Linked DNA regions of Homo sapiens: all the other regions are linked to region 1. Evidence: fine-mapped expression QTL. A gene starts in region 1. Each other region holds a variant in brackets. All regions are shown on one strand. Distances are from middle to middle. Region 1 holds the start of SOAT2 (sterol O-acyltransferase 2). Region 2 overlaps ATF7-NPFF (ATF7-NPFF readthrough). Region 3 overlaps KRT79 (keratin 79). Region 4 overlaps SP1 (Sp1 transcription factor). Region 5 has its middle 28 kb from the start of EIF4B.

Region 1 (6,296 bases):
AGGAATCCAGGCACCTCTACCACGCCCTCCCAGCCCAATTCTGCGGGTGTCCAAGACACTGAGATGGTGCGTTTGGAGCTGGTAGGGAGCAGGAGGGGTGGGAAGCCCTGGAGACTTCCATCTGAGACTGCTCCCTTGGGCTTGGAGACGTCTCCATTGTCTGTCCTGGGTGCTTGCCTGGTGGGCCAGAAGGTTGGAATGGGGAGCTGGGCTGGAGCGGTTCTAAGCTGCCTACTCTCCCTTCCCCAGGGCCCATGCCGTAGACATCTGGACTCAGTGCTGCAGCAACTCCAGACTGAGGTCTACCGAGGGGCTCAAACACTCTACGTGCCCAATTGTGACCATCGAGGCTTCTACCGGAAGCGGCAGGTGAGACTATTTTTCTTCTCCTCCTGCTCCAGCAGAAGGCTCCTGCCAGGGAGTGGGGGCGGTGCTGCTTACAAAGCTGCATAAATAAGACACTGCCCCATCTTTAAGGATCTTCCAACTTTAGGAGAACATAGAGAATATAATTTATTAAACAAACTTAGAGAATAATCAACCACACACTGTGAGAGAAAACCCACTTAAGGAATGCCCTAACTCAGTGGCTCTTGAACTTGAGGCATCAGAATCCTCCGGAGGGCTTATGCCACACAGATAGCTGAGCCCCACCGGCAGCCTTCCTGATTCAGGAGGTGTGGGGTGGGGCCTGACAATATGCATTTCTAACATGTTCCCTCGTGATCCGGATTTGGGAACGTCACTTTGAAAACTACTGTTCCAGGCTAGCAGAATGCACACAATTTATTGGTTGAAGAGGGGGAACTAAAGAGAGGGAACACTGGGCCGGGTGCGGTGTCTCATGCCTGTAATCCCAGCACTTTGGGAGGCCAAGGCTGGTGGATCACGAGGTCAGGAGTTCAAGATCAGCCTGAACAACCTGGTGAAACCCCATCTGTTTTAAAAATTACAAAAATTAGCCAGATGTGGTGGCATGCACCTGTAATCCCAGCTACTCAGGAGGCTGAGGCAAGAGAATTGCTTGAACCTGGGAGGTGGAGGTTGCAGTGAGCAGAGATCATGCCAATGCATTCCAGCCAGGGCGACAGAGCGAGACTCCATCTCAAAAAAAAAAAAAAAAAAAAAAAAAAGAGAGGGAACCCCCGAGGAGACGCTCAGGTGTTTTTACATCCTCAGACTCAGATGTCCCCTCTCATTCTCCTGCTGGAAGCCTCTGGCCTCACTCCTGACCTGTGTGCCTCTCTCTCCAGTGCCGCTCCTCCCAGGGGCAGCGCCGAGGTCCCTGCTGGTGTGTGGATCGGATGGGCAAGTCCCTGCCAGGGTCTCCAGATGGCAATGGAAGCTCCTCCTGCCCCACTGGGAGTAGCGGCTAAAGCTGGGGGATAGAGGGGCTGCAGGGCCACTGGAAGGAACATGGAGCTGTCATCACTCAACAAAAAACCGAGGCCCTCAATCCACCTTCAGGCCCCGCCCCATGGGCCCCTCACCGCTGGTTGGAAAGAGTGTTGGTGTTGGCTGGGGTGTCAATAAAGCTGTGCTTGGGGTCGCTGGCTTGTGTCTCTGTGTCTGCCTCTCACAATTCTGGAATCCCTGGCCCTCTCTTTACCCCACTACAGCTCACTCACAGCATTTCTCCTTTCCTGTGGATACCTTTAGTCCTTCCTGTGACAGCCAGGCAGAAGCTTCAAGCCATCAAGCCTCACAGAGCTGCCCACCAGGAGTTGGGAGTGGGAAGGGGAGACACTGAGATCATGGCCTTAATCTGAAGTTGTGACCTTGTTTCTAACACTGATCTTTGGACACAAAGGGAGGGGAAGGATTAATAGTTAATCCCAGCAGGAACCCAGCAAAGAGGAACTCTCAAAGCACATACCCTTCTGTTACTTCCTACTAAAAAAAGAAGGAAATTATTACTAATATATGAGCTCATCCCATGGCCCTGAACCATGTGATTTTACCTGGACAACCTCATTTTGAGCTTACGATAACCTTGTGATATAGGGATTTTTACCCCTATTTTTCAGAGGAGGAAACTGGCTTAAAATTTGGGGTCACTTGCCTGAAATTATATAGCTGGTAAATGACAGAGGGAGGTTTGCATCCGGTTCTTCCATATGTGACAATACCTGGTATTCCCTAGGTGCTGAATACGTGTTTGTTTAGTCTCCTTTCTGCCTACATGCTCACCCAAGCAGGTGTCAGGAAGCGGCCCTGTCAGTTCAGGGGCCCTGACACTCAGCCTTTCCTGGAGGGGCCCCAGTTCCGTGAGTAGCACAGTGCCAACCCCATCAGAATATTACCACATGTGTCAATCACACACCTTGTGGTGAAAGCGAGCTGAACGCACTGATACATGAAGACATTTCTGACTCCTCCCTGACCTTCAGCCTGCTGGGAGAGAGACTGGAAGGCCAGCCATGCTAGGTGACAAGCTTCTGAGAGGCAAAGTTCCCCTCCCCAAGATGTACCCAGCCACTATTCCTGTGTGTGTGTGGCGGGGTGGATAGCACCCTTGGAGCTGGGCATCTGGATGGTGGTTGGGGTGTTAGGGGGATGTGGCGATCCCTGCGACAGACAGCAGAGTGAGGTCTGAATCTGAGAAGCTCTGCCTCCAGATCAGATAACCTATCGCACTCCCAGAGGCCCCCTCCTCCTGAAAGGACTTTAGTCTTTGGAGCTGTCACCTGAGCTGAGTGGGACAAGAGCTCTACAGGGCAGGCCACACTGCGAAGGAAGGAGGCAACACGGGCAAGGGCTGCCTGCTGCCCGCTGGAGACCGCACCATGGAGCCAGGCGGGGCCCGTCTGCGTCTGCAGAGGACAGAAGGGCTGGGAGGGGAGCGGGAGCGCCAACCCTGTGGAGATGGTGAGCCGCCCTCGGGGGTGCAGAAGGCACAGGCAAGTGGGGGGGAGGCGGGGAGAGATGCGCTATGGAGAGAAGGCTCCAACTGCCTGATGCCAATCCTTCCTGCTGTCCAGAGAGGCCAAGGAAGGTAGACCCTGGCCTCAGCCCAGAGCCACCCAGCTGGAAGATGGAACAGAAAAGAGCTATGTCAGAGCTGTGGCCTGGCCTTATCCTTCTGACTGTTTAGCCCCAGATAGTGAATGGAGTAGCTTCCCATTCCCTGAGTGCCCTGTTCCCAGTAATGTCACCAGGCCCCCTGCTTGCCTATGGCCTCCTCACCACTGGCAACAGCAACTTCCCCTTCTAGTAGCCCCAACCATGATACTAGATATTGGCTGGTTGGGGTGAGGGCAGCTGCTGAGCACACAAAGCATTTCCTGACCACAGGATGCCTCTGGGTCTGCAGAACCCCAATTCCTCCTGTTGACTGTGCCTTTGATCCCTCCTCACAGGAAACACTGAGACGCACAGAGCCCCGGACTTGGTACAATGGACCCGACACATGGAGGTGAGGGATGTCAGAGGTCAGAGGTCAAGTGGACAGATCCTTGGTAGCAGGAAGCAGGAGTGAGGCTTGGTGATAAAGATGACTTTTTTTTTTTTTTTTTTTTGAAACAAAGTCTCGCTCTGTTGCTCAGGCTGGAGTGCATTGGCACAATCTCGGCTCACTGCAACCTCTGCCTCCCAGGTTCAAGCGAGTAGCTGAACTACAGATGAGTGCCACCAGGTGTGGCTAATTTTTTTTTTATATTTTTAGTAGAGACGGGGTTTCACCATATTGGCCAGGCTGGTCTTGAACTCCTGACCTCAAGTGATCTACCCGCCTCGGCCTCCCAAAGTGCTGGGATTACAGGTGTGAGCCACGGTGCCCAGCCTGATGACTTGTTCCTGAGTGCAAAGATCGGATTCGAATTAAGGATGGAGATGGAGGGGTTTGAAGCACAGGTCCCAAAGGTCACCAAAAGTCAGCCAGTAGATAGAGTCTTCCTGCTAGTGCGGCTGGAGGCCAGGGGTGAGGAGTGACAATCGGAGGTGACCAGGCTGGAATTCAGACCCAGGGAGGGGAAGCCTTGCTCCTGCTGTCACTCCCTGATCCTCGCTGCTGCCCCAGGAAGCCAGAAGGAGATCAACTCTGGGCAGGGATCATGGCTTGTTCATCTTTTTACCACAGCACTTAGCACTGCGGGGTCCTACCCCACCAGCAGACCCATCACCACCCCACCAATGCCTGCCCTTCCCCCCGCAGGCCTGCCACCACTGAACCCCCATCCCTGCTGACCCCCCAGGTTGTTTTTTTTTTTAAAAAAAGCACTGTGCCTGGCATAGACAGAAATTCAGTGAATGTCTGGTGAATGAAAGGATGGCTGACTGGAGGGACAGTGGGCTCTACCCTGGCTTTGTCCCGTAGGCTGTGAAGGCACAATTGCTGGAGCAAGCGCAGGGACAACTGAGGGAGCTGCTGGATCGGGCCATGCGGGAGGCTATACAATCCTACCCATCACAAGACAAACCTCTGCCCCCACCTCCCCCAGGTTCCTTGAGCAGGTGAGTCTGGGGAATGGCTGCGCGGGCTCCTCTGTAGCAAGGATCATGAGCTAGAAACATCACGTTATGTGCCCTTGCCAGCTTTATCAGGACCGTGACTCCAGCCTTCCCTCTTCCCCCCTTGTCTTCCTAACACTGACCTCCATCTACTGGGCCTCGCTCTGCCCTGGCCCTGACCTTCTACCCGGTCCTGCCCTCTGGCCCTAGCCCTGACCTTTCCCTACCACTCCCCTTGGCTCCCAAGTATTGACCTTCTGCATGGCCCTGCCCTCTGCCCATTTACTTTTTCCTGACCCTGAACAAACATCTCAATTCAGGACCCAGGAGCCATCCCTGGGGAAACAGAAAGTTTTCATCATCCGCAAGTCCCTGCTTGAGTAAGTCGGGGTGATGACAAGTAATGGGAGGAAAAGAAAGGGCTTTGGCTAGGGGTCAAGGTACCTCATTTCTCATCCCCAGCCTCTAGGTGGTTTGTGGAGAGGACTTGGAAAGGGTTTCTAAGGTGCAGGTCCCCTATTTGCCCTAGGCATGGTTGTGGAAGAAAGGCCTTTAGCTGGAAGTTCTGGATCGCTAGGCCCCATGCCTCATGTGTACAGTGTCTGAGCTAGTTCACACAACCCTGAGGACCCTCCCACACTGACTTTCGGGCCCCTGTCCCTCTAGTGAGCTGATGGAGGTGCAGCATTTCCGCACCATCTACCACATGTTCATCGCTGGCCTGTGTGTCTTCATCATCAGCACCCTGGCCATCGACTTCATTGATGAGGGCAGGTAGGTCCCCTTCCCACCTGGGACAGGCACACCTATCTGATCAGACCCTCTGGGTCCTCAGTGCCCCACCTGCCCTTGGGGCAAGAGGACACAGGTTCCCCCTTTGGTTATTGGACATGTACCAACATTGCTCCCAACAACCTTTCCACCTGAAACACTCTCTAGGATCCCTTCCTTCCCCAGCCTTGGTTGGCCCTTTGTCTGTCCTCCCAGGGCCGGCCACTCTCAAATGCTTCTCAATGACACCTTGCCCTGAGGCAGATGTGTGTGTGTGTGCACACATGCACACCCATACACACTCCTTTCCAAGTCAGTTCTATTCAAGTAACCTCCATTGAGCACCTCCCGAGTACCAGTCCTAGTGGCCAGAGAAATGAGGGGGGCAGACCCCACTCCTGTCTGTGAGGCACTCCCAGTCTTGTGGGGAAGACAGACATGTAACCAAGTGCCTGGGTGGGTCATTTCCCCCACAGAGCACCCCATCCAACTGTGAGGATGAGCCTCAGAGAGCTGTATACCCCTGGGGGTCTGTATTTTCATACCTCCCACTATTCCCAGACCAAACTGAGGGTTGGGGCTGCTATTTCTCATGGCCCAATAACGAGATGCAGATGAACTGGGGAGGAAGTGAGTTTTTATTTCTGTAACCAGTTACAGGGAGAAGGCCTGGAAATTATCACCAGGCCAACTAAAAATTACAATTTCCAGAGCATATATACCTTCTAAGCTCTACATCTATGTGTAGGTGTGCATTCATCTAAAGACATAAGTGATTAACTTCTTTTAATCTATAACTAAGGTCTGAGTCTTGAAGACCTTCTTCTGGAGCCTCAGTAAGTTTACTTAATCTAAATGGGTCCAAGTGCTGGGGTGATTACCCTTCTCTTATCTCCTGCTAAATAACGGAGGTTTGGGGAGTTTCTTCAGACCCCCAGCAAAACTTGTTTAATCATGCTTTGAGGTTCAGGAAAGGCCTAGGCAAAACTCTTGGTGGGCTTTTGTTACATTCCAGCCTTTGTATAAGGGCACTGGTTTTTAACATTTAACTTAACCACTCAGTCAGTACTGAAACA
Region 2 (6,296 bases), 510 kb after region 1:
GCTACTCAGGAAGCTGAGGCAGGAGAATCACTTGAACCCAGGAGGCAGAGGTTGTGGTAAGCAGAAATCATGCCACTGCACTCTAGCCTGGGCAACACGGCAAGACGCCATCTCAAAAGAAAAGAAAAAAAAAAAGAGCTGGGTGCGGTGGCTCACGCCTGTAATCTCAACACTTTGGAAGACCGAGGCGGGCGGATCACAAGGTCAGGAGATTGAGACCATCCTGGCTAATATGGTGAAACCCCGTCTCTACTAAAAATACAAAAAAATTGGCCAGGCATGGTGGCGGGCGCCTGTAGTCCCAGCTACTCGGGAGGCTGAGGCAGAAGAATGGCATGAACCCGGGAGGCGAAGCTTGCAGTGAGCCGAGCTCGTGCCACTGCACTCCAGCCTGGGTGACAGAGCGAGACTCTGTCTCAAAAAAAAGAAAAGAAAAATAAAAAAGAAAATGCTGCTACAGGAGTCATGTTGGTACCAGAAATATGATGTTAAATAAAACCAACAAGGTGTTATTCAAGTTTGATAAAACTTAAATATTACTGGCAAGAAACTTGGTACCAACATGATTCATTTACAGTAATTACGTCACATTCAACAAATCATCCTGATTTTATAATATAGTTAGGGGCTGGATGCGATGGCTCACACCAGTAATCCCAACATTTTGGGAAGCTGAGGCAGAAGGATCCCTTGAGCCCAGGAGTTTTAGATCCCTGGGCAAGAGAGCAAAATCCTTTCTCTGCAAAATAATTAAAGATTGGCTGGATCGGAAGTGAGGGGGTGTGCGTCTGTAGTCCCAGCTACTTGGGAGGCTGAGGCAGGAGGACTGGAGGATCACTTGAGCTCAGGAGTTCAAGGCTGCCAGTGAGTTATGATCACGCCACTGCATTCCAGCCTGGGTGACAAACCCAGACCCATCTCTAAAAATAATGATAATAATAATGAGTCAGGCATATTCCTATTTCAAAAAGAATGGTTGTGCCCTATTTTTCAATCTGACAAAATGTTTTTTTCTTACTGCATGGTAATTTTAAGCCCTCCCCAAAAATTGACCGGTTTAGCACACAAACATTCCTCGTCTACTACAGCAAAAAGAAGCAATCTATCAGATCAGGAGAAAACAGTAAGGAATTCCACTCAAAGGAAGCAAGCTGGGTTTTGTGAGAAGGTGGGGCTGTGGCAAAACATGTGACCACAGATGTCCATGCCACAAGCTCATGAAATGACTTTCTAAGCTAAATCTTGGCTCCCGTTAGTTTACTTTTGGGTTTTTTTGAGCCAGGGTCTCACTCTGTTACCCAGGCTAGAGTGCAGTGGCGTGATGTCAGCTCACTGAAACCCCCGCCTCCCAGGCTCAAGTAATCCTCCCGCGTTGGCCTCCCAAGTAGCTAGGACTAAAGGCGTGCACCACCAAGCCCAGCTAATTTTAAAATTTTTTGTAGAGATGGGGTCTCCCTGTGTTGCTCAGGCTGGTCTCGAACTCCAAGCTCAAGCAATCTGCCCACCTCAGCCTCCCAAAGTGTTGGGATTACATGTGTGGGCCAACTCACCCAACCTACACTTTCATAGACTTTCATGATATTTATTAAGAAGAGATACAATATTGAAAAGAAAAAAAGAAACTTTATGCACATTCTGGTTTCAAATGTATGGGAACACTGAGGATTAAAATTGCCAAAAGATGAGAAAAGGCGTGGCCGGGTGCGGTGGCTCATTCCTGTAATCCCAGCACTTTGGAAGGCTGAGGCGGGTGGATTGCCTGAGCTCAGGAGTTCGAGACCAGCCTGGGCAACACAGTGAAACCCCATCTCTACTAAGATACCTAAAAAATTAGCCAGGTGTAGCAGCGTGTGCCTGTAATCCCAGCTACTCAGGAGGCTGAGGCAGGAGAACTGCTTGAACCTGGGAGGCGGAGATTGCAGTGAGCCGAGACCATGCCACTGTACTCCAGCCTAGGCAACAGAGAACGACTCTGTCTCCAAAAAAAAAAAAAAAAAGGTGAGAAAAAGCTAACAACCTGAAGTCAAGGGTTTGTAATGAGTTTTACTGTAAACTTATGTATTATTTCTTTCTTTGAGACAGGGTATCACTTTGTTGCCCAGGCTGGAGTGCAGTGCTGCAACCTGGGCTGGCTGCAAACTCTGCTTCCTGAGCTGAAGCAATCCTCCCGCTTCAGCCTCCCAAGTAGCTGGCGCTACAAACGCATGTCACCACACTCAGCTAATTTTTGTATTTTTTATAGAGACAGGGTTTTGTCATGTTGCCCAGGCTGGTCTCGAACTCCTGGGCCCAAGCCTCCCAAAGTGCTAGGATTATAGGTGTGAACTACTGTGCCCAACCAATGCTTATGTATTATGTCCTTCTTAAAACTACTATACTAGGCCAGGCACAGTGGCTCACACCTGTAATCCCAGCACTTGGGGAGGTCAAGGTGGGTGGATCATTTGAGGTCACGGGTGCGAGAGCAGCCTGGCCAACATGGTTGAAACCCCGTCTCTACTAAAAATACAAAAATTAGCCAAGCATAGTGGCAGGCAACTGTAATCCCAGCTACTCGGGAGGCTGAGGCAGAAGAATTGCTTGTAATCAGAAGCCGGAGGCTGCAGTGAGCCAAGATTGTGCCACTGCACTCCAGCCTGGGTGACAGAGCAAGACTATGTCTCAAAAAAA[A/T]TTTTTTTAAATAATAATAAAAAAAAGACTACTATACTAACTCACCTTTGCTTTGGTTGGGAACCTTCGTTAAATGTTTGCCTACAAAATTTTAAAAGCTTATCTTTTTATACAAGTTTATCTTTTCATACAACCTTTCCTGAATTGTAACACTCATCCTTCATTTCCGAGGAAGTGATATAGCAAATACTTTCAAAATTGAATTGAATCTTGCCTCATTGTAAACAGGCAGTCAGTCCATTATACAGAAGACCAAAAAAAAAAAAAAAGTTTTTAAACAAAAGGACAAACAAGAGAAAGGAAGGAAACAAAATACTATGATTTAACAGGAACAAAACCCAACATTCTTTCAACACAAAGTGTCCACAAGGGAAATGTCGAAGAGAAAATGTCATGATAAAATATTTTTAAGATATAAAATGACTCCAATGCAAAATATTTGTTGTTGTTGATTTTTGTTTTGTTTTTAGCTCAAAGGAGTTATTATTTCTCGTCATTTATGTTCCTTACTTGTGTTTATCCATTCCCACTGGGTCGACAGAAACATTTCAATTTTATTTTCTTTACAGTCTATTTTTCTTCCTGATTCTTCAAGAGTAAGTTCCTTGATCTTAACTTCTATTTATGAAAGTTCTGGCCTGAAAAGAACCTTGAGGGGTTATCGAGTCCATCCTTCTGCTTTCCAGGAGAATTCATAACTAATGCTATCAGATGGATGAGAAGGTATCAAAAGAAAATGCATTGTTTCCCTGCCTAGTAGCATGCTAATTTAATATGCACATTCATTCACGATTTGCAATTTTTTAAAAACGAAAGTAAAAATTAAAATGCCAAAAGAGGAAGGTACTTAAAAAATGCATTTATCAGCTAAAATTGCTCAAACATAAATTCAACTGTCAGGTCTAAAATTAACAAGCAGGAAAAGTTGCTGCCTGCCAATGTAAAGTCTTTAGTCCCTAGAGATGTCTTCTGAAGTTGTATCTCATTTGTAGCACCCTTCACCTACAACACTTAGACCTGGCAAACTTAGACCATCCTTGCCAATAAACTACAATTATAAATGGCAATTGTGTGTGTGTGTGTGTGTTTATAGTTGGTATAGGTTTTTATTCCAAACAGAAAATGAAAAGTTAGGGTCGGACGCGATGGTTCTTGCCTGTAATCCCAGCACTTTGGGACGCTGAGGTAGGTGGATTGCCTGAGCTCAGGCGTTCGAGACCACCCTGAGCAACATGGTGAAACCCCATCTCTACTAAAACACAAAAAGTTAGCCGGGCGCAGTGGTGGGCACCTGTAGTCCCAGCTACTTGGGAGGCTGAGGCATGAGAATTGCTTGAACCTGGGAGGCAGAGGTTGCAGTGAGCCAAGACTGCACCACTGCACTCCAGCCTGGCTGACATAGCAAGACTCTGTCTCCAAAAAAAAAAAAAAAGAAGAAAATGAAAAGTTAGGTCTAAATTGGAGATGTCAACATTACAGGGAAACTACATAAAATTGTTTTCAGAGAGTAGTTTAATTCTTTCATTTCTAAGTTGAAATGTCCAGGGAATAAAGTTTTTTTCCTAAAAGAGTTTCCAAGGGCAGGTGGCTCACACTGTAAGCCCAGCACTTTGGGAGGCCCAGGTGGGCGCATCAACTGAGGCCAGGAGTTTGAGACCAGCCTGCAACATGGTGAAACCACGTCTCTACTAAAAATACAAAAATTAGCCAGGCGTGGTGGCATGTGCCTGCAGTCCCAGCTACTTGGGAGGCTGAGGGGGAGAACTCCTTGAACCCAGGAGGCAGAAGTTGCAGTGAGCTGAGATTACACCACTGCACTGCATCCTGGGAGACAGAGCGAGACTCCGTGTCAAAAAAAAAAAAAAAAAGAAAAAAAAAAGAAGAGTTTCCAAAACAAGCTGGGCATGGGGGCCCAGCCTGTAATTCCAGCACTTTGGGAGGCCAAAGCAGGCAGATCACCTGAACTTAGGAATTCAAGACCAGCCTAGGCAACATGGGAAACTCTGTCTCTACAAAAAATACAAAAATTAGATGGGCACGGTGGCGCACATCTGTAGTCCTAGCTACTCAGGAGGCGGAGGCAGGATAATCACTTGAGCCCAGGAGGCAGAGACTGCAGTGAGCCAAGATGGCGCCATTGCACTCCAGCCTGGGAGACAGAGGGAGACCCTGCCTCAGAAAAAAAAAAAAGTTTCCGAAACAGAATTTCATCTAATGTCAAAAAATCTGGCCAGGCACAGTAGCTCATGCGTGTAATCTCAGCACTTTGGGAGGCTAAGGCAGGAGGACTGTTTGAGCCCAGCAGTTCGAGACCAGCCTGGGAAACATGATGAGACCTCTACAAAAAATAAACAAAATTAGCCAGGCATGGTGGCATGAGCCTTTAGTCTCAGCTACTCAGGAGGCTGAGGTAGGAGGATGGCTTGAGCCTGGGAGACTGAAGCTGCAGTATGAGCCATGATTGTGCCACTGTACTCCAGTCTGGGCAACAGAGTAAGACCCTGTCTCAAAAAAAAACCATGGCCGAGCACGGTGGCTCACGCCTGTAATCCTAGCACTTTGGGAGGCCGAGGTAGGTGGATCACTTGAGGTCAGGAGTTCAAGACCAGCCTGGCCAACATGATGAAAACCCATATCTACTAAAAAAATACAAAAATTAGGCCGGGCGCGGTGGCTCACGCCTGTAATCCCAGCACTTTGGGAGGCCGAGGCGGGCGGATCACGAGGTCAGGAGATCGAGACCATCCTGGCTAAAACGGTGAAACCCCGTCTCTACTAAAAATACAAAAAATTAGCCGGGCGTAGTGGCGGGCGCCTGTAGTCCCAGCTACTTGGGAGGCTGAGGCAGGAGAATGGCGTGAACCCGGGAGGCGGAGCTTGCAGTGAGCCGAGATCCCGCCACTGCACTCCAGCCTGGGCGACAGAGCGAGACTCCGTCTCAAAAAAAAAAAAAAAAAAAAAAATACAAAAATTAGCCAGGTGTGGTGGCACATGCCTGTAATCCCAGCTACTTGGGAAGCTAAGGCCTGAGAATTGCTTGAACCTGGGCGGCAGAGGTTGCAGTAAGCCTGCCACTGCACTCTAGCCTGGGGAACACAGCGAGACTTCGTCTCAAAAAAAAAAAGAAAAAGAAAAAAACCACAACCAAAAGACAGTAACAAAATAACAACAAAAAATCCCTGCAACTATGAAGAAATATGGTTAATTTTCTATAATTATTTGAAAATGAAAAAAAAACAGGACTAGAAGTCTTGGAAATGGGAAAATTATAATTTTTTAAAATGTGGGGCAAGGGAGGTCGAGTACAGAAATCGTAGACTAGTGAAATATTATTTCTCAGAAAGATTCTAAATGAATTATTAAACAGATCACTTATGAACCACTGGCAAGTTATGCAGTGATCTATAAACAGTAGCATAAGATACCCAAACAGCAACTAATATGCAACTTCATTTTCTTTTTTGACAGGGTCACTAGCCTAGGAGTTCAGAGATGTCAGAGGCAGAATATACTGCATTTGGATTTCAACAAGATACCTCTTGCTATTTCATAGAAAATAAAGGTTAGATTATATAAAATGGCAGGTGGGATTCACAACTGAATTTTATCCAAAAGTTGACTAACAG
Region 3 (6,296 bases), 280 kb before region 1:
AAGGGGATTTTCAGGGAAACAATATAGAATATGTAATCAGTCTTATTTTGTGCCTGTGGGGCACCCAAACCATGGAGCTACGATTGAGGTACTTCTCATGAAGGTGACTTGAGGTGTGCCATCGCTGATACAAGAAGGAAGATGAAGGAAAGGCAGCGGTGCCTCTTGGGTAGAAGGGATTCTCTCTTGGAACTACTGTTATATGCTGAACACTAGGTGCTTCTTCCAACAACCCAGTCAAAGAGGTGCTTTGCTATGTCCAGTTTGGAGCTGCAGATATTGAGGCTCAGAGGGGTATGTAACTTGCCTGAGATCACACAGCCAGGAAGTGGTAGAGATAGGAAGTCAGTACTATCTGTCTGACTTCAAAGCTTGTGACCTTACAATGTATAAAACGGTAGGTATAATGTTTTATATGAGTGACTGGCCCACACAGAATATGCAGGGAAAAAAATACACAGCAACTTATACAGCCCTGTACCTCATGGTCCACCAAGACAGCCATGGGGTCTGGCCAGCAGGCTGCAAGCTCTGCAGATGCAGCTCCGCTCCTTTTTGTCCTTACCCTCAGCACATGGTCAGTTGCTTGGTTGATGTGGCCCTGTCCTTACAAGTACCCAATAAGGTATGACACTGTCCTGAGGGGCCAGTTTTGTATCCTCCAATTAACTAAATCCAAATTAATTTCATGACAAACCCTACCATAAACCCAATCCAAACAAGAAGAAAGTTCTAGTCTAGAGCCACATTCTGTGTCCTTATTATTAAATCAGAATTGCAAGAAGCTCACAAAATCTTCAAACTGAGCCTGAGAAACCGAAGGTAGACCTAAGGAAGAACTTCCTATGCAAGAGCGCCTTTACACCCTAGAGTGAGAGAGAAAGAGAGATGAGTTTCTTTCCCTGAAAACGGGGAAAGACATTGCCTTCATATGTGGGCCAGAGGCAGGTGGCTGAACAAGGCGCCACTACCCAGCAGCCACAGCTGGAAGCTTGTCCCCTGCCCCTCCCCAGACCTCCACACGCAGATTCTGCTACTGCCCTCGGTGACCCTTCCTTGTTTGGCAGCTGTTCCCAATCTTTTCACAGAGGGATGAGCAGCCGACAGGGGTGTGGAGCCAGGCGGAGGGAGTGTTTGCTCAGGGCTTTCTGGGTAAGGGAGGCAAGCCCTTACATTCAGCCCTGGGATTAAGGGATCCTGAGGGCTTCTGTCACTCTCATCTCCAAACCCACTGTGTGGTGTGGGAAAGTGCTCCTGCCCTCCCTGGCCAGGCGGGCACCCTCACTCCATTCGGTCACCCAACCTCAACTGCCCCACCGGGCCTGAGTCATTCTTGGGGAACCAGAGACAACACGGGGATCAGAGATTCTGCAGAAAAGGGCCATCAGCGTTTTAGGGAGAGGCCAGTGAGGGCAATGAGAGGACGGGCACTCCTGAGAGCCAGGTATGGGGGTCTGTACCCAGGGGCTCCTCTTTCCCCGGGCCGGAGAGCTGCCCCTGCTGGCCTCCTACCCCAGGCATATACAGGCAGGGGCTTCCCAGCATGTTCTGGCAGCAAAAGCACCCTCATAAACAAAATCACGTGCACAGCCTCATGAGTAAAACAGATAAGGAGAGATGATCCAGTTGGTGCAGAGGAGGGACCATGATCCTTCTCACCTGCTGACCTCCCCCTGCACCCCTGAAAGCAGCCCTTAGGGTCCTCAGTTTGGAAACCCCTGGGTCTGGGCCATTCCCCTCCTTCGACAAGTATGTCTAAGCAGCGCATTATTGTTGGTGGGCCCCCCTGGGCTGCAGTATAATCTCTGAGGCTTTTTTCCATGACAATCAAAAGTTTCTATTGTTCAGTTTTTGAGCCCTAAATATAATTTTTTTGAGACAGGGTCTCCCTCTGTCACCCAGGCTGGAGTGCAATGGTGCAATCACAGCTCACCGCAGCCTCAACAGCCTCAAGTGATCCTCCCACCTCAGCCTCCCAAGTAGCTGGGACTACAGGTATGCATTATCAAACCCAGCTAATTTTTGTATTTTTTTGTAGAGGCAGAGTCTCACCATGTTGCCAGGCTTGTCTTGAACTCCTGGGCTCAAGTGATCCACCTGCCTCAGCCTCCCAAAGTGCTGGAATTACAGGCAGGAGCCACAACACCTGGCCTATGATCTCACTAAAACTGATTTTTTTTTTAACACTGCCACTAAGTTACCGTGGCTTTGGATACATTCTTCCCCTTCCTCAACCTGTTTTCTTATCTATGAAATAAAAAGTTTGGAGTCGATTACATCCAATGCCCCTTCTAGCTCCAGCATCCCCAGGTCTCCATTCCTTTTTCTATATAAGCAAAATAACCTGGTGCTTAAGAGCTTGGGCTATGGAACCAGATTGCTTGGATTCCACACCTAGCTCTGCTACTTCCTAGCTGTGTGACCTTAGGCAAGTTACTTAACCACTCTGTGCCTTATTTTCCTTATAGGCAAAATTAGAATGATAATAGTATTTATATTATAGGCTGTTGTGAAGAGAATCAGTTAAAGGCTTGACAGCAGTTCTGGCACACAGTTGGCACTCAGTGAGCATTAGCAAGTATTCCTCAAAGTGTTGTACATGGGGTGGACTATACTCCATCTGTCTGAGAAGGGAAGCTAGAGACCACCCAAGCTGGTGAGGCAGAGCTGACCCTAAACCGCTAGGCCTTTGTGTTCCTAAGCTGGAGGTTAGGGTTTGGCTGAAAATCCCTCTGCTGGCCTTCCACAGCCCTGGAGGAAGCTTTCTCAGGGCTCTTCGGGGCTCCTCTGAGGAGGACAGAGTGATCAGGCCGGAAGAGTGTGGGATGCATCCCAGCAACTGCCAGGAGCCCTAAGGTTGCCAAGGAAGGGAGCGGAGTGGTGACAGCCTCGGGTCGGGCCAACTGGTTT[G/A]GTAGCAGGGTGGGGAGGGCCTGAGAGGTGCAGGGTTGAGAGGCCAGCCAATTGGGGAATCACTTGGGTACAGCTTGAGGAGTGGGGTCCAGACTCAAAGTAGAGAACTGTGGAGATGAAGAGGAAAGAAGGTGATACCAAGAGACGCATGGAGGGAGGAGCAGTAAGATTTGGCGAGTGATGGAGGCAGGAGTAGGACGGAGGTAGCTTCTGGGGTGACAGGACAGAGGGCTTGAAATTGCAGCCCTGGACACTACTGACCCACCTCCAGCCAGCTGGATGACTACAGCATGAGAGGTCACTTCTGTGAGCGTGAATCGCCTCACCTGTAAACTGGAACACCACATGCCCACTACTGAACCTAGGGCTGTGGTGATGGTCACAGGCAAAGTAATGTATGTGTAAACCACAAAACCCAATTAAGTGTGGATTTTTCTTGCCGACTGGATGTGGGGGCTGAGAGAGACATCACTGAGGCCAAGAGGATAAGCTGGGAATCCAGAAGTCAGGGAGTGGGAAAGCAAAGAAACCTGATTCCTGAAAGGGCCTCTATAAGCCAGATGCTTTACACATGTTCTTATCACAACCCACTTTTACAAAGGAGGAAACTAAGGCTCAGAGAGGTTAGGTAACTTGACCGAGGTCATACAGCTAGTAAGTGGCAGAACTTGGATTTAAACCCAAGTTGCCTAGTTCTGAAGCCTAAGACCTCTCCACTGAACAAAGCATGCTGTCTGCCCCTACAGAGTTAGTGGGAGGCTGAACAGGCACCAGGGGTGGCTGGTTAATAGGCAGCCACTTAGCCAGGTCTGGCCTTGAGCAGCTTACATATTCCCTCTGAGCCTTGGTCTCCTCTTGTGAGCCATGTACAGCCCTGGAGTGGCGATGGTATCAAACTAATGTACCTAAGTAAGCATGGCGATTGGGATGTGGTGAGTGTGTGATTATTGCTGTGTCAGGCATCAGGATGTTAATCAATGGACACAATTTCAGTTCCCCAGGCAGGACAGACTGCAGCCACAGACAGCTAGCTGCAGTTGCACCATTTATTGAGACACAGACAGGGAAGGGGGATGTGGGTAGATTCAGGGAGAGGGTGGGTCTGGTGGGGGACTGGGGAGGTTGAAGGGTCTTTGGGGACCACTCCCAATTTCTCTCTCTCCTAATGGCTTGAGAAATTCAGCCTCCTCTCGGTGGTCAAAAGGTCACCCCCAAGTCACCCAAGCACATCACTCAAGCTGGCAACTTTAACCTTCCCTCCCATCCTACTGCAGGACCAAGGAGAAAACCTGAGTAGATTTGAGCGCTTCCCAAGATGCAAATAGTCTGGTATGAAAATACCCTGGGTCTGAGGTCCCCTGGCTGTTCCTGCTCCTGAGAAGTGACTGGAAAGGACAGCAGAGGTGGGGTGAGGAGGGCAGGGACAGGATTGCAGGGGCCCTTGCAGGGCTCAGCAGCTAATACCTCTGGCTGGACGTCTTGACCGTAGTGGTCTTCCGCAGGATGGAGGTGCCCGCAGAGACTGGCCCTCCCTTGACGGTGCTATAGCCCACATTTGTGCTGAATCCACCCTTGGTGGCCCCCCCACTCCCACCCAGGGAGATGCCACCTCCAAAGCTGGCTGCGCCACCTCCGCACACAGTGGTGGAGTTGCCAGTCACAGCTGCAAAGCAAAGGGTCTGGATTAGTCAGGGCGGCCATGCCAGAGAGGGCTGGGGGAGACCCAGAAATCAGTGGGGAATCAGAACAAAATCAAGCAGCAGAGCTATGGGAAATGGATAGAGAAGCCCAGAACTAGGACCCTCTGAACCTGTCTCCAGGGGCTCGAATGGAGGAGAGCATGCTTTAGGACAGGTACAGGTTGCATAAACTGAGCAGAGTTCTGGGGCCTGGCCAGGGGTGGAGCAGGAAGTGGGGAGTAAATACTCACAAATGCTGACTGCACTGGGACATTCTCCAGACATCCTAGGGGACACAGAAAGGCCAGGAGAGCAGTCAGTTATCCCTGGTGCCCACATGAAAACCCTCTCCTTCCCTCTGCCTTTACATTGGATCCACTCAGTGAATCCTGATGACAAGACCAGGAAACATGAGAAGTATGTGTATAGGGCTGTGCCCAGGTCCAAAAGCCAGTGCTGCAGAAAGGGCAGAGCCACCAGTAGGCTGTGCCAACTCCCATCCTCCCCTTTTCTTTCCTCTCTGCCCATGTGGGCTACGGACAGCATCCCTGCCCCAATGGAAACAAGCCCACGACCAGACAGAGCTGCCTAGTTTCTGCCCACTTTCTATTTCATGCTTTTCCTAAGGACAGAGATGGTGGATTTTTTTTTCCAAAGCTTCCACTGCTGGTGAAATCTGCTGGTGGAAGAGGAAGTTCCATTCCTACCGGGCTGTCAGCCACAGTAAAGATTAACAAGAGTTGTGCCAACCAAGGAGAGGAGTGATGGAGGCAGTGGGCACAAGCAGATTTTCCCCCCGCGTGAGTCAGGATCTTGCTCCCTGGTTCCTCTCTCCCTCTCTTGACCCCGGAGCAGACTCCCTGGGCTCTCCCCCAGGGCAGGCCCGACCCAGCTTTCTGGGTCGGGCAGGAGGGGCCACCACCTGCTCTCCTCGCTCTCCAGAAGCTTGCGGTAGGTGGCAATCTCCACGTCCAGGGCCAGCTTGACATTCATCAGCTCCTGGTAGTCACGCAGCAGCCGTGTCAGGTCCTCCTTGGCCTGGTGCAGGGCCACATCCAGATCCCCAAGCTTCTTCTGAGCATCCTTGAGTGCCAGCTCCCCACGCTGCTCCGCTTCCGCAATGGCCGTCTGCAGCTGCTGACACTGCCCAGGGGAGAAAGGTGTTGGAAGCACCCTCCGGGGTCATCCCATTCATCTCTCTGCCCTCAAGCCATGGAGACATCATCATTCCCACATCCCTGCCCCCAACCAGCTGGGAAAGAGAGAAGAGAAATATTCATCTGAAGAGATGCTATTACACAAGCAGGATCAAGTAAGGCCACTGGGAAAGTCCTTACTGAAGTCTAACCTCAACCCCTCCTGCTGCAGATCAGCCCAATGCCTCAGAAGAGATGAAATAAATAACACAGCCTTATTAGTAACCAGGTGCTTCATTCTAATCTGTGAAAGAACCCACACTTTTTAGCCGTTCTAAAGGTGGAGTCGGCATCAGCATCTGTGACCTGGCCCCTTGAACCCTCTACCTCCTGTTCTGACTTCCTGGAGATGGGATGGATCAGTTTCCTTGGAGAAGGTTGTCCCACCTGCTCTACCACTCATATACCATGTGACGTTGGACAAGCTCCTTCCTGCTCTGTGCCTCAGTTTCCCCCCATGTAAAAGGAGCCTGTGATCAATGGCCTAGCATTCTATTGTGTCCGTCAGGAG
Region 4 (6,296 bases), 280 kb after region 1:
ATGTGAGCTAGGATGGTCTCGATCTCCTGACCTCGTGATCCGCCCGCCTCGGCCTCCCAAAGTGCTGGGATTACAGGCGTGAGCCACCGCGCCCGGCTTTCTTTTCTTTTTTTTCTTTTTTCTTTTTTTTTTGAGATGGAGTCTTACTCTGTTACCCAGGCTGGAGTGCAGTGGCGTGATCTCGGCTCACTGCAACCTCTGCCTCCCGGGTTCAAGCGATTCTCTTGCCTGGGCTTCTTGAGTAGCTGGGATTGCAGGCGAGCACCACCACGCCCAGCTAATCTTTGTATTTTTAGTAGAGACAAGGTTTTGCTATGTTGGCCAGGCTGGTCTCGAACTCCTGACCTCATGTGAATCCACCTGCCTCGGCCTCCCAAAGTGCTGGGATTATAGGTGTGAGCCACTGCACCCAGCCACATTTTCTGTTTTGTATGTTTTTTTTCCACACCCCTTTAAAAATGTAAAACCATTCTTAGCTCTAAGGCCTTCTTTGGCCTGTAGGCCAACTCCTCCATAGGATAAAAATTGATTATGGGCCGGGTGTGGTGGCTCACGCCTGTAATGCAGGCACTGAGAAGACGAGGCAGGTGGATGGGTTGAGTTCAGGAGTTCAAGACCGGCTGGGGCAACATGGCGAAACCCTGTCTTCGACAAAAATACAAAAATTGGCCGGGTGTGGTGGTACATGCCTATGGGCCCAGCTACTCGGGAGGCTAAGGCATGAGAATTGCTTGAATCTGGGAGGCAGAGGTTGCAGTGAGCCAAGATTGCACCACTGCACTCCAGCCTGGGCAACAGAGTGAGACTCTGAAAAAAAAAAAAAATACAAAAATTAGTCGGGTGGCTGGGCACGGTGGCTCACGCCTGTAATCCCAGCACTTTGGGAGGCTGAGGTGGGTGGGTCACCTGAGGTCAGGAGTTCAAGACCAGCGTGGCCAGCATGGCGAAACCCCTTCTCTACTAAAAATAAAAAAATTAGCCAGGCATGGTGATGCGCGCCTGTAGTCCCAGCTACTCAGGAGGCTGAGGCCAAGAATTGCTTGAACCTGGGAGGCAGAGGCTGCAGTGAGCCGAGATCACATCACTGCACTCCAGCCTGGTTGACAGAGCAAGACCCTGTCTCAAAAAATAAAAATAAAAGGCGGCCGGGCGCGGTGGCTCACGCCTGTAATTCCAGCACTTTGGGAGGCCGAGGCGGGTGGATCACAAGGTCAAGAGATCGAGACCATCCTGGCTAACACTGTGAAACCCTGTCTCTACTAAAAATACAAAAAATTAGCTGGGCATGGTGGCGCGCACCTGTAGTCCCAGCGACTCAGGAGCCTGAGGCAGGAGAATCACTTGAACCAGGGAGGCGGAGGTTGCAATGAGCCGAGATCGCGCCACTGCACTCCAGCCTGGGTGACAGAGCGAGACTCCGTCTCAAAAAAAAAAAAAATAAATAAAAATAAATTTGATTATGGGCTGGGCGCGGTGGCTCACGCCTATAATCCCAGCACTTTGGGAGGCCGAGGTGAACAGATCATGAGGTCAGGAGTTCAAGACCAGCCTGACCAATATGGTGAAACCCCGTCTCTACTAAAAATACAAAAATTAGCCGGGCGTGGTGGTACAAGCCTGTAGTCCCAGCTACTTGGGAGGCTGAGGCAGGAGAATCGCTTGAACCTGGGAGGCAGAGCTTGGAGCGAGCCAAGATCGTGCCACTGCACTCCAGCCTGGGTGACAGAGTGAGACTCCGTCTCAAAAAAAAAAAAAAAATTGATTATGAATTTTACCTGTTTGTAGAACACAGATTAAATCATCAGATATTTCTTGTGAACTGTAACTCCTAATTGAAGGGAAAATGATCTAACGGGTTGCTTTTCAACGAAGTAAGTTCCCTGGTTAGTATTAACCAGAATATCCCACACTCTGAGTGTGCTGGTTAATCAGGATTGAATTTTTTTTTAACTCCTAGTTATCTGAAAAACAAAATCCCATAGCTTCCCTTCACACTAACATATGAGCATCCTAGGTGATTCTGATACTTCTAGGTAGCAGTCTAACTTCCTAGACTGCTTTGAAAGTACTGTGTGTGGTTAGGAAGGGAGAAGGAAAGGGAGTGGGGTAAGTTGGGGTCTGGAATGGAGTGGGGGATGTAGGATTGAGAAGAGTTAGGAATGAGGAGAGCATTGAAGGGAAAAACAGTCTGGGAAGAATATTGAATCTGTTGACCATAATGTTCAGGGTCTTTCATTTTGAACTAAATGTTTCACTATTAATTTGAAATTTAAAACAGTAAACAGATGTAAGTCTATGTAGACTGTATCTTTTTTTTTTTTTTTTTTTCATTTTTGAGACTGAGTCTTGCTCTGTTGCCCAGGCTGTAGTGAGTGGAGTGGTGCAATCTCCGCTCACTGCAACCTCCCCTTCCTGAGTTCCAGTGATTCTCCTGCCTCAGCCTCCCAGGTAGCTGGGATTACAGGCGTGTGCCACCATGCCCGCCTAATTGTTTGTTTAATGGAGACGGGGTTTCACTGTGTTGACCAGGCTGGTCTCGAACTCCTGACCTCAAGTGATCTGCCTGCCTTGGCCTCCCAAACTGCTGGGATTACAGGTGTGAGCCACTATGCCCGGCCTGACTTTATCATTTTAAATTCCATTGTATGGAGCTAATCTTTAATAAAGCACAATAAAAG[G/A]ATACACATACATCTTTATATGCTGGCACAATTATACAAATACGGAAAATAGTTTAATATCACCAAATAATATCACCCAACTTCTAGGTTTGTTTTTTTTTTTTTTTTCGTTTTCTTTTTTGGGACTGACTCTAGCTTGTCTCCCAGGCTGGAGTGCAGTGGTGCGATCTTGGCTCACTGCAACCTCTGCCTTCCGGGTTCAAGCAATTCTTCTGCCTCAGCCTCCCGAGTAGCTGGGATTACAGGCACGTCCCACCATGCCCATTAATTTTTTGTATTTTTTTAGTAGCGATTGGATTTCACTGTGCTGGTCAGGCTGGTCTCGAACTCCTGACCTCGTGATCCGCCCGCCTTGGCCTCCCAAAGTGCTGGGATTACAGGCGTGAGCCACTGCGCCTGGCCACTTCTAGTTCTTTTGGCATATATATGTGGGTTTATAAATTGTTTACTTTTGTTACCAAGTTCTCATTCCATTTAACTGATTCTTACATAAGTGAGGGTAGCAAATAGGCAACCATATTTCCTGCCTCCTGCAGTTTTGGTAAATCTAGGGGGAAAGTCTGCTTAAGTTCCCTGATTTCTTACATTCCTGTGGTGTGTTTAGAAATACTACATGTTGAGCTTTAACAAGACAGTAATTTTCTTAGTTAATTGAAATCTTAGAATTGAAAGTTAGAGCTGGAAGGGACTGAAGTTATTTAGTACAACTGCCTTATTTTCTAGATGAGGAAATTGAGGTACAGAGAATCACTTAATGAGACAACAGCCAGAGCTGAGGCTAGTTTTACTAGTCTAGGGTGCAACCTGTTTTAACTAGGGACTTGAACAATTCTTTAGATTGTTAAAAATGTATTCGAGCCAGCCTGGTGGCTCACGCCTGTAATCCCAGCACTTTGGGAGACTGAGACAGGCGGATCATGAGGTCAGGAGATCAAGACCATCCTGGCTAACATGGTGAAACCGCATCTCTACTAAAAATACAAAAAAATTAGCTGGGCGTGGTGGTGGGTGCCTGTAATCTCAGCTACTAGGGAGGCTGAGGCAGGAGAATGATGTGAACCTGGGAGGCAGAGCGTGCAGTGAGCTGAGATTGTGCCACTGCACTCCAGCCTGGGTGACAGAGCGAGACTCCGTCTCAAAAAAAAAAAATGTATTCGAAAAGGTGTTTTTGATTTAAGATTTAATGCTCTAAAACTGACAGATGTTTATAAAACATTTATAAAAATGTTTTATAAACTAAACATTTATGGGAATAGAAATGGGAAAAGTTTTATAAAAACTGACCTCTACAACGTAGAAAATTAGACACTTCTGGGCAACCTACACCATCATGTTTATTTTCTATTTGCTCTTAGATTGAAGTGCCCGGTTTTGCTCTTCTTCAGAGCAAACTGTGGGATTATTCCTGTTAATAATTTGGATCCTTGCAATTTCTAAAAGGCTTATAACTTAGGGTTTAGAGAACAGTTATGAGGCATTCTCATTGCTAAATCATGCTCTGGGGAAGTCTGCCATTTAATATGTCATAGACTAGGGCTACCTAGTTGTTACTGATGGTGTTTGAGCTGAAGAAAATGCGTGTGTGTTTCTGTAAGGTAAGAGGAGCTTGACATTCACTAAGGAGATAATGAGGCATTGACAGGCTGTTTTGTAAGAGTTGAGATTGTTTGCTTCATTAATAGGGGTTTTTGAAGATCCAAGTTTTCTCCTTTCTGGCTAGTAATAATTGTGTAGTATTTCCCCTTTAATTGATATGACTTCATCCTTAAAGAAAGATAATAAAATCACTTCCTAGAGGCTTACTCCTTTTTCAGCTTTTGCCTTCCTGCTGGCAAAAGTATCTTGTTTTGGCCAGGCGTAGTGGCTCATGCCTGTAATCCCAGCACTTTGGGAGGCCAAGGCAGGCAGATCTCTTGAGCTCAGGAGTTCAAGACCAGCCTGGGCAACATAGGGATCCCCCATCTCTACAAAAAATATGAAAATTACCTGAGCATGGTAGCACACGCCTATAGTCCCAGCTACTTGGGAGGCTGAGGTGGGAGGATTGCCTGAGCCCGGGAGGTTGAGGACGCAGTGAGCCATGATCACGCCACAGCACTCCAGCCTGGGCAGTAGGGTGAGTCCCTGTCAAAAAAAAAAAGTATCTAATTTTACCCCCTTCTCTGATAGTTATTTTACTGTAAAATTTAACCTTTTTGCAGTATGTTCAACTTCTTGGTACGATGTAGAAAGAACATTGGATGTGAAATGTTGTATGATACATGTATATATCACTGTACAAAATGAGATATATTACATGATTGTGGAAGATTGCAGCTTCCATGGTGTTCACTTAGTCTGTTTACATTCATTATTTTTTAAAATGATCTTTTTTTTTTTTTTTTTTTTGGGAGACGGAGTTTCATTCTTGTTGCCCAGGGTGGAGTCCAATGGTGTGGTCTCGGCTCACTGCAACCTTTGCCTCCTGGGTTCAAGCAATTCTCCTGCCTCAGCCTCCCGAGTAATGCCCACCACCACGCCTGGCTAATTTTTGTATTTTTAATCGAGATTGAGTTTCACCATGTTGGCCAGGCTGGTCTTGAACTCCTGACCTCAGGTGATCTGCCTGCCTCGGCCTCCCAAAGTGCTGGGATTATAGGCATGAGCCACTGTGCCCAGCCGCTAATTTTTGCATTTTTAGTAGAGACTGGGTTTCACCATGTTGGCCAGGATGGTCTCGATCTCCTGGCCTCCCAAAATGCTGGGATTACAGGCGTGATGTTTCTTTTTTTTTAAATTGACACCCCTCCCTCTTTTATCAACAGCTTTTCCTTTCATTTTGTAGTCATATTTTCCCAGATCTTTATTTTATTTTATTTTACTTTTCATTTAAAGCCTCAGATGTTTTTCTTAGCCGCTGCTGAATCCTGAAACTCTTGCCGCAGGTTGACGGGGAGTTGGCTTTTAAAGATTTAAGTTTGGATGACTTCTTGTGAGTTCTGTCTAATAAAGAGTGCAGGGCTGGGCTTTGGCAGGAGAATAGAACATATTTCCTTGATGGGTATAATTCATTCACAAACCAAATTTCAGGTACTAAAAATAACAATTTCACATCTGCTGGGTTTTATTGGGGTCAGGAAAATGTCTTCTCTTAGAAGTTAAGTTGAATGTGATACCAGGGTTGGTTTGCCAAGGGTGTCACTAAACTTGGAGTCAGATTGCTGAGAGCTAATTTGTTAAAAAGTTGTGTTTTAGAGCAGTACATTTGGACATTAATGAAAAGTAGGTTTAGATGATTTAAATGTCTTACCAGTTATCATTTTTGTGCAAAAGGTCATATGAAAGAATTTTCTATTTTAAGATTATATTTTATCAAATATAATGTTGAATGTTTCTGCGTCTTTTGTCTTTCCCTAGTATTATACTTGTTTCTCTTTTTAATTTAAAAAATTTATTTTCTAGAGATATCAGCACAGAAAGATATACTTGTTTCTTAGGGTGTTTGGTGCTTTTTAAATGGTTATTTCAGTTTAAGTAGGAAAGATCTCATTTAAAATCTAAGTGCTTTGAGGGGGCTGGGTGCAGTGGCTCATGCCTGTAATCCCAGCACTTTGGGAGGCCAAGGCGGGTGGACTGCCT
Region 5 (6,296 bases), 120 kb before region 1:
GGCATGCAGTGTACGGAATCCTTCCCTGGACTGCGCCAGGCCCTCTGGCCCAGAAAGGTTCATCCTGTCCTGTGCTACCTGGGAGGTAGGGAGGGACTCAGGTCCAAGCCCCACTGTGGACAGAGCCCTGGCCAAGCATAGACACAGGGCGTCAAGAATCCCAGGAGAGGGAGGGTCTCATGGCTCCCCAATCCCACCCATCCTGCATCTTCATCAAGGTACTTCTGGGCCCCTTGAGACAGTGGCAGCAGCTGAAGGTGAGGAGTCAGGGGATAAGAGAGCATGAGACCTTCACCTCTCCACCCCGCACCTCTCTAATTTGCTTCCAGAATTATCTTTAAATCCACATTGTTGCCCTATCACGACTCCCCCCTGAAACACCTGTGATGGCCTCTCATTGTTGAAAGCATAAAATCTGATCTTCCCCCTGCATTCCATCTCCCATATCCACCTCCCTACTCAAGTGCCCCGTCTGCCCTTCACTAAACCTACTGTTCCACCTGAACTAATCTCAAACAACGTTTCCCAAACTGCCTCCTGCCAGGAGTTCTCCCCACCCTTCCATGTCCTGCATCCCACGTTTTCCTCAAGGCTCAGTGCAAATCACGCCTCCTCCCTGAAGCCTTCCCCGTAACTCGGCTGCCACCCTCAGGCTGCCTGCCAATGCTGTCTCCTCCTCTGACACCTCTTATGAGCACCACTCATCAAGATGGTCCCTTTAGTACTTGGCGTGCCTGGCCCCACATGTTGGCTGGCATTGTTTATTTGAATGAACATTGCCTTGGTACAATGATGGAGCCTGCTCTGTCCTCCTAGAAGAGACAGGAGAGAGAAGCCCATAGCAAGGGTCAAAAACTCCCAGCCTGAACCTGGGAGATGTCCATATACTGATGAAATGAGAGGTTCCCCTCTGGGTTCCAATGCACAAGCCCTGTACCAGATGAGGGAGCCATAAGGGATGCAGACAGAGACTCAAAGACAGAGACAAGGGCTGAGGGAGGGGGGATGGAAAGAACTGGGGAGCCAAAGACTGCAGCGGGGAAAGAATGCAGTGTCCATCCTAAAAGAAGGAAAATGGAAGTTTCCCAGGGAGGAGGGTGCCTGATCTTATCTGCTGTTTACATTCCAGAGAGCCCCTGCTTCTGCTTCTCATCTTAATTAGAGAATACTTGAGAAGCCCTGCCGCCGTGCAGAGAGAAAGGAATGCAGGCCCCCACTAAACCCCAGCCTGCCCCCCTCACCCCTGACCTCCTGCTGGCTATGTGGTGGGACTGATGGGAGTCTGGGTTCTGGATCCATTTTCTGTTTTCTGTTTTTTTGTCTACAGTGGGCTGATCCATTAAGCTGGATTCCTTGAGAGAGTATGTGAGAGGGTCTGGGAACTGTCAGGGCTCCACTCCTGCAGGAAACAAACAAACAAACAAACAAACAAAATTAAAAAGTATTAGAAAGAGCCACTGAGAGGAACAGCTGAGATTCTCTCAGTCAGTCTGCCATTCACCCCCTCAAACATCGCCCTCACTCCACCACCATAATGTCCAGGCAGGGTGCTGACACTTCACCGTTCACCTCCCACCCTGCCCCGGGCTGTCCTCCAAATGTGTGTCAGACACAGTGCTGGGGGACTTATACTTCTGTCATAGTCTCTGTCTTCAGTAGCATATGGTAAGAGCCAGGATCCGCTATTAAACATGCTGTGAGTGGGTAGAGACAAAGTCTTGTCTTGTAGGGTGAGCAGGCAGTGAGGTCAGAAAGGGCATCACAGGTAGAGGAAAAAGCATGGGCAGAGGTCTGGAACCCAGTCCCTCTTCATACCACCCGCTGACCCTTTCCCCTCCCCCCCACATGAGATTTCTCCCCCTCTCTTCTCTCTTCTCTCCCTCAACAATTCCAGGGTTGCCCACCTGAAAACAAGCTCCCTGGACCACCTTCCCTTGCAGCTCTCTGTTCCTTCTCTCTTTTTTTTTTTTTTTTTTTTTTGAGACGGAATCTCACTCTGTCACCCAGGCAGGAGTGCAATGGTGTGATCTCAGCTCACTGCAGCCTCTGCCTCCCAGGTTCAAGTGATTCTCCTACCTCAGCCTCACGAGTAGCTGGGATTACAGGTGCCCACCACCACACCCAGCTAATTTTTGTATTTTTACTAGAGATGGTGTTTCACCACATTGGCCAGGCTGGTCTCGAACTCCTGACCTCAGGTGATCCACCCGCCTCAGCCTTCCAAAGTGCTGGGATTACAGGCGTGAGCCACTGCGCCTGGCCAGCTCTCTGTTCCTTCTCATAGCTAAGCATCTTACATCATTCTCTCTCGTTTTGTTGTTGTTTTGTTGTTGTTGTTGTTGTTGTTGTTGTTGTTGTTTGAGACAGAGTTTTGCTCTTGTTGCCCAGGCTGGAGTGCAGTGGCGCGATCTCGGCTCACTGCAACCTCCACTTCCAGGGTTCAAGTGATTCTCCTGCCTCTGCCTCCCAAGTAGCTGGGATTATAGGCATGCGCCACCACACCTGGCTAATTTTGT[A/G]TTTTTAGTGGAGATGGGGTTTTATCATGTTGGTCAGGCTGGTCTCAAACTCCTGACCTCAGGTGATCCACTTGCCTCGGCTTCCCAAAGTGCTGGGGTTACAGGCTTGAGTCACTGCATCTGGCCTTACATTATTCTCAAAAGAGGTCTACACACAGGCTTTCCCCTTCCTCACCCAGTTCACTCTTCAGCCCCTCCAGGCTGGCTCAGCTCGTATGGCTCCTCAGAAGCTGCACTAGCCAAGGTTCCCAGAGACCTCCATGTTGTTGAAATCGATGGACACTTGACATTCCTTTTGTTCCTTGACCACTTAGCTTCCAGCAGCTGCATGCTCCCTCCTTCTTTTTTTTTTTTTTTTTTTTTTGAGATGGAGTTTCACTCTTGTTGCCCAAGCTGGAGTCCAGTGGCATGATCTTGGCTCACTGCAACCTCCATCTCCCAGGTTCAAGCGATTCTCTTGCCTCAGCCTTCCAAGTAGCTGGGATTATAGGCGTGTGCCACCACACCTGGCTAATTTTTTGTATTTTTAGTAGAGACAGGGTTTCACCATGTTAGCCAGGCTGGTCTCGAACTCCTGACCTCAGGTGATCCACCTGCCTCGGCCTCCCAAAGTGCTGGGATTACAGGCATGAGCCACAGCACCCAGCCTCTCCCTCCTTCTTGAAACACTCTCCTTCCTAGTCTCCCAGACACCTCGTGCCAGGCTTTTCTCTAGTTATAGTTTCTCGGTCCCTTTTCCCCACTCACCCTCCTTGACATGGTCTGTAACTTGATGTTTCTGATCTATAAATTGACCTGATATAAAGTTGATGTTCCTCAGGGCTGGGTCCTGGCCCCTATTCTCTTATTAATAGGGACTATTTTCTTGAGTCATCTCATACCTTGCCCTGGTTTTAATTGCATCTTCTATAGACCAAAGACTTCCAGATTGTGATGTCCAACCAGACCTTTCTTGTGAGCTCCAGAGCAGCCTATGGAATATTCTACTTAATGCCTCTTTTTAGATGACTCTTAGGCATCTCAAATTTAACCTGTTCAAAACTGGATTATTGATCTTAGCTCCCACCAGCTTCATAATTCTTGTTCATCTTAGTAAATGACACACCATCCATCTAATTGCTTGTGCCAGAAACCTGGGAATCATATTTGACACCTCCTTCTCTCTTGGTCTACCCTATGGATCTAATAAATTAATAACCCTACTTCCACAGTAAGTCCAAATCTATTCCTTTCTCCCCATCCACACCCCACATCCAGGCTGTAGGCATCTGTCCTCTGTACTATCACTGCAACATCTTCCTAACAGAAAGTCTTCTCATGGCCACCAGTAACCACTCAGCCTTCCTCCACACACCAGCCAACATGGTCTTCTTTAAAAATAAATCTCAGCCGGGCTTGGTGGCTCACACCTGTAATCCCAGCCAAAGTGGGCGGATCACCTGAGGTCAGGAGTTCAAAACCAGCCTGGCCAATGTGGCAAAACCCCATCTCTACCAAAAAAAAAAAAAAAATTAGCCGGGCATGGTGGCAGGTGCCCATAGTCCCAGCTACTCAGGAGGCTGAGGCAGGAGAATCACTTGAACCCAAGAGGCAGAGGGTGCAGTGAACCAAGATGGTGCCACTACTCTCCAGCCTGGGTGACAGAGCAAGACTCCATCTCAAAAAAATAAATAAATAAAAATAAAAATAAATGTGTGCCAGGCCCAGTGGTCCCAGCTACTTGGGAGACTGAGGTGGGAGAATCTCTTGAGCCCAGAAGTTTGAGACCAGCCTGGGCAACAGAGCAAGACCACCTCTAAAAAATATATAAATAAATAATAAATAGATAAAACTAGATCTCATAATATCCCTCACCTACTTAAAACCCTTCCGTGACCCAGGAAGCATCCAGACTCCATGGCCAGTGCCCTGACTCTGTGTTCCAGCTCCTCTTTTTGCAGTCTCCCCTGCTGACCAGCCTCCAGCCACACCATTCACTCCACACACACACTCCTCCCTTAGCTCCCTCCCACCTCCTCATCAGCGATCTCTCCCTCACCTTCCGAGGCTCTGGCTAAATGCTCTGGTATACAGAAGGAGCTTGATGAGTATGGGGAAGGTATGGGAACAGAGGAAGGGAGGAAAAGCCATGGCGACAGGGTGACACTTATAGCAACAAGTTGTATGGTGAGGGGGGCAGGTTAAGGGATGAGGCTGCAGAGCTCCCTTGAACTATCCCTTTAAGCATTTTGTAATGACTCCTATCCCTTTAAGCATTTCATAGCAAGATCTGCACCTGTTTGAGTTATTCTGTTTTATTTCTGGCACTGCATCAATATAGCCATTTGTTTTATTAAATGACTCTGATGGCATTTTTTTTTTTTTTGAGATGGAGTCTCGATCTGTCACCCAAGCTGGAGTGCAATGGCATGATCTCAGCTCACCGCAACCTCCACCTCCTGGATTGAAGCTATTCTCCTGCCTCAGCCTCCCGAGGTACGCACCACCATGCCCGACTAATTTCTTGTATTTTTAGTAGAGGCAGGCTTTCACCAAGTTGGCCAGGCTGGTCTTGAACTCTTGACCTCAAGCCTCGGCCTCCCAAAGTGCTGAGATTACACATGTGAGCCACCACGTCCGGCACTGATGGCCTTTTTGACTTGGTGACTCCAGCTGTCCCTGAGAAAAGCAGTCTTGCCTCCCTCTGCCCCCTGGTGGCCTTCTAGGTGCAGAGACCATTGTTCCAGTCATCCTGGCTACTAGAATGGCTTTGATTTTCTGGCTTATAGCACCACCATTTGGCCAAATTTGCTAATAGGCGGCTGCTCCATCCACATTGACTTCCAATTTCTTTTCAACCTTCTCATTGGCAGAGTTCATGGAATCAGAGCCTCTTGGAGCTTAAACAACGTCAGTGGACGTAAGAGCTCTCCAGAGCCTCAAGCAAGCTTGCAGTTCATTCTGGAGGGCCATGCTAGCGGCACAGACAGAATGGCAGTGATCATGGTGCAGGAGTCGAGGAACTGGCCCTGTGAATGTCAGGCATGTGTCCCCCTGGGTTTCCTGGTCCTTCCCTATTTGCCCTTGCCCTGACACACCTCTCATCCTCCTTCATGCTGCCTCCTGCACAATGCTTCTCCAGATTGGCTCAGTCCTATTTACACAGTCTTTGATCTGGTGTTTATGTCTTTTTTTTTTTTTTTTGAGACTGGTCTCAAACTCCTGACCTTGTGATCCACCCGCCTCAGCCTCCCAAAGTGCTGGGATTACAGGTGTGGGCCACTATGCCCGACCTATGTCTTTATTTTTTTTTTTATTTTTTTTTTTGAGACGGAATCTTGCTCTGTAGCCCAGGTTGGAGTGCAGTGGCACGATCTCGGCCCACTGCAAGCTCTGCCTTCCAGGTTCACGCCATTCTCCTGCCTCAGCCTCCCGAGTAGCTGGGACTACAGGCACCCGCCACCACGCCCAGCTAATTTTTTGTATTTTTAGACAGAGATAGGGTTTCACCGTGTTAGCCAGGATGGTCTCAATCTCCTGACCTCGTGATCCGCCCGCCTCGGCCTCCCAAAGTGCTGGGATTACAGGTGTGAGCCCCTGCACCCCCGCCCGACCTATGTCTTTATAATAATACCTAATATTTATATAATGCTTTGCAGTTTATGAACTATTTTATTTTATTTTTTATTTTTATTTTTTTGAGACAGAGTCCCACTCTGTCACCCAGGCTGGAGTGCAGTGGCATGATCTTGGTTCACTGCAACCTCTGCCTCCAGGTTTCAAGTGATTCTCCTGCCTCAG

Evidence for each region.
Region 2: its variant is fine-mapped to the expression of SOAT2 in whole blood (INTERVAL, PIP 0.92).
Region 3: its variant is fine-mapped to the expression of SOAT2 in lymphoblastoid cells (TwinsUK, PIP 0.94).
Region 4: its variant is fine-mapped to the expression of SOAT2 in whole blood (TOPMed, PIP above 0.99).
Region 5: its variant is fine-mapped to the expression of SOAT2 in transverse colon (GTEx, PIP 0.94).

The regions. Positions count from the first base shown.
Region 1 is chr12:53,100,792-53,107,087 of GRCh38, forward strand. SOAT2 (sterol O-acyltransferase 2) reads left to right here and starts at 2,695. Exons shown (of 15, transcript NM_003578.4): 1 at 2,695-2,868; 2 at 3,360-3,415; 3 at 4,316-4,452; 4 at 4,770-4,829; 5 at 5,116-5,223. The coding sequence starts at 2,787. IGFBP6 (insulin like growth factor binding protein 6) reads left to right here. Exons shown (of 4, transcript NM_002178.3): 2 at 1-66; 3 at 250-369; 4 at 1,254-1,549. The coding sequence ends at 1,376. LOC124902936 (a long non-coding RNA gene) reads right to left here. Exons shown (of 3, transcript XR_007063315.1): 3 at 5,841-6,296. RefSeq lists an enhancer at 2,277-2,805.
Region 2 is chr12:53,614,966-53,621,261 of GRCh38, forward strand. All of the region lies in intron 1 of ATF7-NPFF (ATF7-NPFF readthrough), which reads right to left. The region is part of intron 1 of ATF7 (activating transcription factor 7); the gene reads right to left. Among named protein-coding and RNA genes, the nearest start is that of ATF7, 8.3 kb to the right of the region's middle. The variant A/T (reference allele first, on the strand shown) is at 2,671.
Region 3 is chr12:52,817,505-52,823,800 of GRCh38, forward strand. It overlaps KRT79 (keratin 79), which reads right to left. Exons shown (of 9, transcript NM_175834.3): 7 at 5,512-5,732; 8 at 4,841-4,875; 9 at 3,904-4,573. The coding sequence ends at 4,368. Among named protein-coding and RNA genes, the nearest start is that of KRT4, 6.5 kb to the left of the region's middle. RefSeq lists an enhancer at 715-1,216. The variant G/A (reference allele first, on the strand shown) is at 2,911.
Region 4 is chr12:53,384,171-53,390,466 of GRCh38, forward strand. The region is part of intron 3 of SP1 (Sp1 transcription factor); the gene reads left to right. Among named protein-coding and RNA genes, the nearest start is that of SP1, 7.1 kb to the left of the region's middle. The variant G/A (reference allele first, on the strand shown) is at 2,679.
Region 5 is chr12:52,975,792-52,982,087 of GRCh38, forward strand. No RefSeq gene overlaps it. Among named protein-coding and RNA genes, the nearest start is that of EIF4B, 28 kb to the right of the region's middle. The variant A/G (reference allele first, on the strand shown) is at 2,517.